2 separate regions of the Homo sapiens genome follow, and region 1 is linked to region 2. A link means that fine-mapping ties the variant in region 2 to the plasma level of a protein whose gene starts in the linked region. Region 2 holds a variant in brackets. A gene starts in the other region. All regions are shown on their forward strands.

Region 1 (4,386 bases), not on the chromosome of region 2:
AGCGTGACTAGATCAGTGTCATAGACATTTCTAGGCTGAGGTCTGATAAGGGACCAGTGGACACCAATGAAATCACAAAGTCTAGGGATGTCACAAAGGCAGCTAGCTCCCTGACCAATAAGGGCCTGGAGCAGAGGGATACAATAGGCAGGACTAAGCACTAGTGTCCTCAGAGACCTACTTGAGCTAGAGAATCAAGCAGAGCTGATGAGAGCCAAACCCAGCAAACATCATGTCAGAGAAAAAGAACTGTAAGAACTCGTCTACAAATAACAACCAGACTCAAGACCCTTCTAGAAATGAGCTACAGGTCCCTAGGAGCTTCGTGGACCGCGTTGTGCAAGATGAACGAGACGTCCAAAGCCAGAGTTCCTCCACAATAAATACCCTCCTTACCTTGCTCGATTGCCTTGCTGACTACATCATGGAGCGGGTAGGCTTGGAGGCCAGCAACAATGGCAGTATGCGCAACACTTCACAAGATAGGGAGAGAGAAGTGGACAACAACCGTGAGCCCCACAGCGCTGAGAGTGATGTGACTCGCTTTTTGTTTGATGAGATGCCCAAATCCAGGAAGAATGACTGAAGACTGGGTCCCAGAGCCTTGAAGGGAACCTCACAGGCTTAGCCAGGGCAAAAATGTGTCACAGCTGAGGAATATCTGCTGTTGTCATCAACAAGTGCTATTAAAGGATGTAAATCCATGAGTATGTTTCTGACTCCTCTCAGTTTCTGTCGCTTTGGGTTGTAGGTGTCTGTAAGACATCCAGGGGAAGCTATCCCCAGAGAGCTGAAGGCGGGGAAGGGGTGGCCAGTGTGGTGTTTGAATCAGTGATTTAGAGGGGGCAGTTTCCAATGGTGACAGTGAGGGCGCCGGCCCTGTGGGGAGGAACTGGCTGGGATAAAGACACCGAGACTTCCTCATTGTCTCTGAACAGGAAGGCCTTGTGAGGCCAGGGAGTTGGCTGGGGGCCTCTGAGGCTTGTTGAATTCCCAGCCTGATGCTGGGGCCTGAGGTGGAGCTGCAGACTCTGACTGAGGTGCAGGAGGCTTTATTCAGGATAGCAAAGGTCTGAAGTCAGAGGGCGGTGGCCACAGGGGTGGGTGGAGAGGGGCACACTGGCTGGCATGAAGTTCATGGGACAGGGGCTTTACATGGAGATTGAAGAGTGAAGGAGAAACCATCATGAAAAATGCAAAAAAGAAATGATGGCCTGCTGGATTTCATTTCTTATTTCTTTATGCCCTGCCTTATTATGAAAGCGGATTTGAGACAGGGATTATTAGCTAGTGCTGTGAATATATCTTTTTGTCCTCTCTTCAGGACACTGGTAAAATAAATCAAAAGAATATATAAAATTTATGATCTGGCCTAAGATGGGCAATTCAAGAAGTTCTTAATGGTTGTTAATTATTAATGAATCAGCTTAATTATAAATGTATTTCATTTAAAACACGATTAACAATTTCATTTTTAAATTGAATACTTATTCATTATAATTACCATATATTGCATAGAGCACCAAAGGATTATTAGTGACTCAATCCATGTTTTAAGAGGTATAGAAATAATTCTGTCCCAAGTGGCGGCCTCTAAAGCACATGCAATCCTTTTCAAAACTTCCTGCTCTGTGCTAAGTTTAAAAGAGGTGTCACATCAAGTGTTGTAGCAATCTGTCCCCTTGCCTGTGAGTGCCCACATTTTAGGTTTCCACCTCTTCCTTGGGTCCTTGGGAGCCACAGTCTGCTGCCTGCTGGCCTTTCACAGAGGGTTGGTCAGAGGCTGCACAGCCGGCTCCAACAATGGGAGCTGCGGGCCTGGGTTTCAGATCCCAGTTCACCACTTCCTGGACATGTGATATTAGACCTTCAATTACTCCCTCTGAGCAGTCCTCCTCATGTGTAAAATGGGGGTAGTAAAAGTCTCTCCATCTGTGGGTTTTCCCAAGATTGAGTCCACTTGTGCCTGTAAACTGCTGTTCCACACAGTGCATGCACAGGGTCCCCCTTAATAAACAGTTGCATCTCCTTCCTTCCCTAACAGCAGACCTGTAGGCAGGCTTCCCCAAGGTGCAGTGGTCCTGGTTCTCAGGTGACCACTGGGGACTTAGGCCACTGGCTGTGAGAACCACATCCTGCTGAGCCCTGTGGAGAGACAGGAGGAATTTGGGAATATTTAATTTATGTAAGCAAAAGAGACTTTATAATCGAACACGTCAATACCATCCAGAGGTAGGAAAACTTTACATAATCACACAATCAGAGGTGGAGCTATTTCAGAATTACAAGCACATAGACATATAGGCACAGAGAGATAGAGCTTATAGCTTCAGTTCTACAATTTCAACCGTGAGTCAAGTGTAAATAGAAACAGTAAAGTTCTCTGATCCAAATATAAAAAAAAAAACTGTTCTCCTCTAAGAGAGTATAAAATTCTTAATTGATTTGAGCTATAAATAGACAAATGGACAAAAGACTGTCAAACCAGATTTTCTGTTGTCTTTTACACAACAGAGACTGTATTTCTATGAATCATTAACTCATTTACACAGCTCTCCAGATGGTTGGATCCTAAAACTGAATTCCCAACCATTTGGTCAACAATGAAAATAACTTACCTAATGTCAATGAACAACAACAACAACAACAAAATACAGAATTAGTAGAGAAAAATATTGAAATAAAAATTAAATGTTGAAACTAAAATTAGAAAAACACAATGAACAAAGACTTATTTGGGCTTTGGAGTCACCTAGATGAGGCAAGCAAAGACATTCCTGGGTTTAACCAAGCATGAAGCACACATCTCTGTCACCAAGTTTGCCTAGCTCTGATAGATGAATCCACTGGGTATAACATTGTGACCTTTAAAAACAGGTAAAAGGTATTTTCTAACAGAGTAAAATCATAACACTCAAACACCTATGATATGGAAATGCGTTGAAACAATCGATTAACTCGTGAGGAAATTGGCGGATATTATAAGCCATTCAAAAGGGAATTCAAAGAATAAACATAGGAACATTGATCATGAATGTTTAAGTAAATGTATACATGGAGGCAAAATTGGGAGCAAGGCAGTGAACATGTCTGTAAGTGACTTACAGCTTCTAGAGGGAATGTAAATTAGCTCACAGACAATGCAAGGCTAAACTTAAAGAACCTGGAGTGGTGTCCTAAAGACAGGACAATACTTTCATTGACACAATTTTTTGCTAAAATGTTAAATAGAAAATGAGCTTTTCCTTAAAAATAAGTTCCAGCTACTAGGGCAACCAGGTTCCTCTCAAAAAGAAGTTCCAGTTACTGGGGTGACCAGGTTCCTCTCAAAAAGAAGTTCCAGTTACTAGGGCAACCAGGTTCCTCTCAAAAAGAAGTTCCAGTTGCTAGGGTGACCAGGTTCCTCTCAAAAAGAAGCTCCAGTTACTAGGGTGACCAGGTTCCTTTCAAAAAGAAGCTCCGGTTACTGGGGCAACCAGGTCCCTCTCAAAAGGAAGTTCCAGTTGCTAGGGTGATCAGGTTCCTCTCATGGGCTTTTCTAGGCTGAGGCCTGATCAGAGCCCAGTGGACACCAATGACATCAAAAAGTGGAGGTTGTCACAAAGGCAACTCCCTGACCAATGAGGGGCTGGAGCATAGGGATACAGTGGGTGGCAATAAGCACTGGTACCTTGAGAGGCTCAGGCCAGCAGGAAAATCAAGCTGTGCCAATTGGGGCAAAACCCAGCAATTCCTCATGGCTGGAAACAAAATGTTCTGTAGGCCTAGGAGACAACGCCTTTCCCATTCCAGAAGAGCAGAGCTGCAGTTTCCTGTCAGCCACTTGGAACGCTGCCTGCGAGAAAGTCAGCATGCCCGGCACCTGAGCTCAACCACACCTGTTTTCCTGGCTGGTGTTCTCGAGTATCTGACAGCCAACATCCTGGAAAAGGTGGGCAAGGAGGTCAAGAACAGCTGCAGGCTGTGCATCACCCCAGAACACGTGAAGAGGGCACTGCAAAAGGATGAGCAGCTCAGATGGATCTTGGAGTTGGAAGATGACACCCACTCTCAAGTAGAAGAAATGCCCCAATCTGAGGAGGAAGAGGAGGAGGAGGAGGAGAAGGAGGAGGAGATGGTGGTGCTGGTGGTGATGGGGGGAAGGAGGAGGAGGAGGAGAAGAAGGAGGAGGAAGGATTCCTGAGTTTCGGAGCCATGCGGGACTTCATCAGCAACCTCCTCCAGATGCCAAAATTCCCATAGATGAAAGACCCCAGGTTGCTTCCATCTGCCCAAGCTATTAAACTGTGTAAATGCATGACAGTGCTCCTGACTCGTCTCCGTTTCCGTTGCTTTGGGTTGGAGGTGTCTGTGAGACATCAAGGAGAAGCTATCCCCAGAGAGCTG
Region 2 (4,395 bases):
ATGTATACTTGAAATTAATGGCATCAATTTTATGAATGATGGAGGTAATTGAGAATGTTCTGTGTGAGGCACCTGCACTAGATTTGATGTGGAATAATGTCATTTTGAAGATGGAGACAGATTAGTTACACACGCATATTGTAGGCCATGGTGCAAAGCAGGCTCACCATGCAAAAGTGACCAAAACGAGGCCACGTGGGTTGTACACCTCAGCAGCTGTGTTACCCACTGGGACAAAGCTCTGAAGGACATCCTGCCTCCAGGGGAGAGAAGAACAAAGCCCAGGGTGTCCCTGGCTGTTTTTCCCTAACTCAAGATTTTATATCCTCTAGGAGAAACAGGAACAAACCTGAGCTGTTCCAGACAGACAGGATGTCCTTGGCTCTGTGCACGTTCAGGAACAAGATCAACTCGTTCTGAGTCTCTATTCAGTGATTTAGGTTCGGGGAAATAAGAATGCAGATCTGAAATTATGGAGCTTTCAGAAGGTTTTCATGTGTCTCAGTGCAATTTCTTCATGTGTTATTTTGGCTTATGGTATTGATAGGCCCACAAAAACTAGATTTAATTCAATAATTCAAGTGATAGAGCAAAACTGAAAGAGCTGAGGGGTTTTCTAGCAGGATTTAGAAAGTTTAAAATACTTCATCTTAGAAAATGTATTTGCTGGACATTGATGGGACTGGAGTAGAGATGGATGTGGGGGAGCCCAAGGATTGTGTTTTCACACACACCACAATGACTTCTGCTGTCCCTTCCTTCCCTCTCTCCCTCTCTCTCTTTCTTTCTTTCTTTTCTTTCCTTCCTTCTTCCTTCTTCTTTCTTTCTCTTTCTTTCTTTCTTTCTTTCTTTCTTTCTTTCTTTCTTTCTTTCTTTCTTTCTGTTTCTTTCTTTCTCTCTTTCTTTCTTTTCTTCTTTTCTTTCTGCTGAGTGAGCCCAGAAGTACACACAGGTATAAAACTCACTGAATCACCATTAGCTGTTCTTCCTTTTGCCTCCCACCCAGGTCAGGAGGAATTACAAGTCCTACGGAATTCTAGTTCTAAGAGAGTGAGAATCTTTATATGGCTGATTATTCCAGAATTTTCTATAATGATGCAGCTGTTGTTTCTTTTAGCCAGTTTTTATTGAATTCTGTTCTTTTCCATTGAGTCGTAAAACTTATTTCTATATTCTGTTGCAAGTTTGTTTTAAGATATATATATATATATATAAAATATTCTTGAAATCTGAAAGTTTCTGTTCATTTTCTTAATGTAATTATTTAAATATGAAACTTATTTTATTATAAATTACAAATAATTTTTGCATATATTTATGACATATGTTGTTTAGTTATGATACATGTATACATTATGAACTGGGTAACTCAAGCCGCTTATATTCATCACCTCACAAATTTATCATTTCTTAGTGGGGAAATTCTAATGTTTATTTTTTTAGTAATTTTGAAATATATACTACCTTATCAGCTATAGTTGACATGCTGTGCATTAGAAAGGCATAACTTATACCTCCTGTCTAACTGGAACGTTGTGCACTTTAACCCACATCTCCCTTTCCCAGTCCACCCCTCTAGGCCCTGGTAACCAACATTCTACTCTACCTCTGCAAGTCTACTGCTTTAATATATACAGTGAAATCATGAATGACTCTTCCTCTGTTCCTGGCTTGTTTCACTTGGCATAAGGTCCTCTAGATTCATGCATGCTGTCACAGAGGCAGGGTTTCCTTCTTATTTAAGGATGAACATTACTCTGTTGTGTCTGTATGCATTTTCTTTATTCATTCATCCATTCATGGGAATTTAGGATGTTTCCATATCTTTACTATTTTAAATAATGCTGCAATGAACGTGAACATGGAGTGCAGATATCTCTTTGACATGTTGATTTCATTTCCTTTGGATACATAGCCAGCAGTGAGACTGCTGGATTCTACAGTAGATTTTGTTTCTTTATTTTTTGAGGAACATTTATAGTATTCTCCATAAATAGCTGTATTCATCTACATTTTCACTCTCCATATTCTGAGTTCTGTTTCTGTCATTTCAGCCATCTCAGCCCCATTCAGAACTGCTGTTGAAGAGGTGCTGTGGTTGTTTGGAGGAAAGAGGGCGCCCTTTTTGTTTTCAGGACTTTTGCACTGGTTCTTTCTCATCTTTGTGGGCTTATCCACCTT[C/T]AATCTTTGAAGTTGCTGACCTTTGGATACATTTTTATTTTCTTTTACCCTATTGGATGACCTTGAGGGTTTGATTGTGGTATAAGGTGGATTCAGCCAACTGGCTTCATTTCTGGAAAAATTTAGGTGGCCAGTGCTCAGCTCCCAACACCTAGACTGTGTGCTCTGACTCTGGGGGAAGTTATACTAGTCCCTGACTTGGTTCTCCGGCTCCTTAAGGTTAGGAATCCACTGTCCTGGGCTGTTGGAGGTGTGGCAGCTGTGGCAGAGTGCTAGTGGGTGTCTGGGTGCCTGCCTCCCTGCAGGTGTTCGCCACAGTGGCAGAGGCATTGCGTCTGTGGGTGTGTGGGGCCCTGTTGGTGACTGTGTTCAAGGTCACACTGGAGGAGGTGTTGGCTCAGGGATGGGACACTTGTGGGCACAGGCCCGGGTGCCGTATTCATGCCCCACAAGCAGGAGTGATTTCTGAATGTGTGAGATGATCTGCTATTCTCTGTGCAGAATTAGCGCAAGTGCGGGACGCTGACAGGAGCGGCCCTGGCTTTTTCCCCACCAAAGCTTCCTCTGCCATGGTGGTTGGGGTGGGGGGAGGGGACTGCACTCCACGCAATGGTGGGACAAGAAAAGCAAAACCCACCTATACAGACATGTGACTGCAAAGTGATGTGGGAAGTTACGTGGGCCTGGGTGAACCTACAGTATTCGGAGGAAGTGTGTAAGCTGGTGTGTGCACATGAGGGCTGCCCGATTGGAGCTCTCCACCAGTCAGGCATGTTCTGCCAGGGCAGAAATTTTGGTGCGGGATCCCAGGGCGTCCAAGACTGCCCTGCAAGAAGGTGTGGCCAGGCTAGGGCCCCAGGAGAGGCCAGTAGATGGAGGGGCACTCAGGTCCCTACATTATTTGAGAATGTGGCCATGTTTTATGTGAATGAGTGATGACTTGATTGTAATGCAGCATTTTATTCCAGTACACAAACATATCTCAAATTGTTTAACATTCACCTGTAATGGATATTCAATGTGTTCTCTCAGTTTCTGGCTTTTATACGGAAAGCAGCTATTCAGTGTGGGAATGTGAAAAAAATGAGAAAACTGTGATTTTATTCTGACCTCATTAACAACGAAGCTGAACAGCTACAAATAAAAGAGAGAAAAAACATTCAACATATCTGAGTTGATTTCACCAAGCAAACAAGAAAACTGAAATCTGAGAAGATAGGAGCCTGCAGAGAGAACCAGGACCTACCTGCTAGTGTACATAGGGCAGGTGCCACTGGATGGCATTTGAGATAGAAACAGACTAACCTAGAAATACTTAATGACTTTTTTTTTTTTAGTATGCATGTACTAATGGTGTTAGATTGGCCTAGTGCTTGCAAGCTTTTCCTAGAGAACTTGAAAAATCCACGGACAACTTCCTCATCTGGTGTCTTGTGGTGTTGACTGGGGAAAAGAACAGCAGCTCCTGTGGAATGCCTGAATGCACCTCCACTACCTCCAGGGGAAATCCACCAAAGCATGTGTCATATGAGCTGTGGTGAAGTCAACAGAAACAAAAGGAAACAGACGACACCAAGGAAACTTGATCCAGAAACACCTCCTATCTCTTTCCTCAGGAAAGAAATCCTTACTCTTTAGGGTAAGGATAGTGGGTAAAAAGCTGGGGACACTGGTGAAAAACAGTTGTGTCTGGGAAAAGACGTTCCAGCCCTGGGGAAAGAGTTAAGGACAGGACAATGTGGAAGGCCACTCCCCAGAACTATGCTTACTACTCCTGCATAAGAAGGAGACTCAGTCAGAAGGTTGGAGGAAGTCCCGCTTTGTCCAACCTCCTTCACCACACAGTCATCAATTTAAACTGTCAGTAGGGTGCACTTTCCACAGCTGAAACAGACAGCCTCCCTGGGGAAAACTAAATATAAAGACCCAGGATCAAACAGGGACACAAAAGCAAGTATCATGGGAGGAACTTGAAATCTCTGTGGACAGCAGAAGCTGACTTCAACTCTGATAATTGTGGCATCCATAAATTGCAAATATAGCCCTGAATAGATACACACAAATATCTATAATGAAGGCCCAGCAGAATGGAATGTGTTACCATCTTCAGGAAGAAAATAATGAATACATGAGTACAAGAAAATAAATTACAAATTAAAGTCAAACTGGAATTCTATATATATTAAAAATTTCATTTAAAGCGAAAGTCAAATG

Which allele goes with the higher level. Alleles are on the strand shown, and positions count from the first base shown. The strength of an association depends on the size of the effect and on how common the allele is.
For the plasma level of the protein whose gene starts at base 172 in region 1, allele T in region 2 goes with a higher level than allele C (strong association).

What was found. PIP is the chance, under the fine-mapping model, that this variant and not a neighbour inherited with it causes the effect. Protein levels are from antibody-based Olink assays in UK Biobank. Linkage for the fine-mapping came from a reference panel and not from the study's own genotypes, which makes the PIPs less certain.
Region 1: H2AP starts here. The variant in region 2 is fine-mapped to the plasma level of the H2AP protein (UK Biobank, PIP above 0.99).

The regions. Positions count from the first base shown.
Region 1 is chrX:37,990,608-37,994,993 of GRCh38, forward strand. H2AP (H2A.P histone) reads left to right here and starts at 172. Exons shown (of 1, transcript NM_012274.2): 1 at 172-707. The coding sequence starts at 233. The coding sequence ends at 586. H2AL3 (H2A.L variant histone 3) reads left to right here and starts at 3,665. Exons shown (of 1, transcript NM_001395555.1): 1 at 3,665-4,297. The coding sequence starts at 3,737. The coding sequence ends at 4,183. It also overlaps a transcript of SYTL5 not described here.
Region 2 is chr14:105,991,508-105,995,902 of GRCh38, forward strand. It overlaps IGH. Among named protein-coding and RNA genes, the nearest start is that of FAM30A, 76 kb to the left of the region's middle. The variant C/T (reference allele first, on the strand shown) is at 2,182.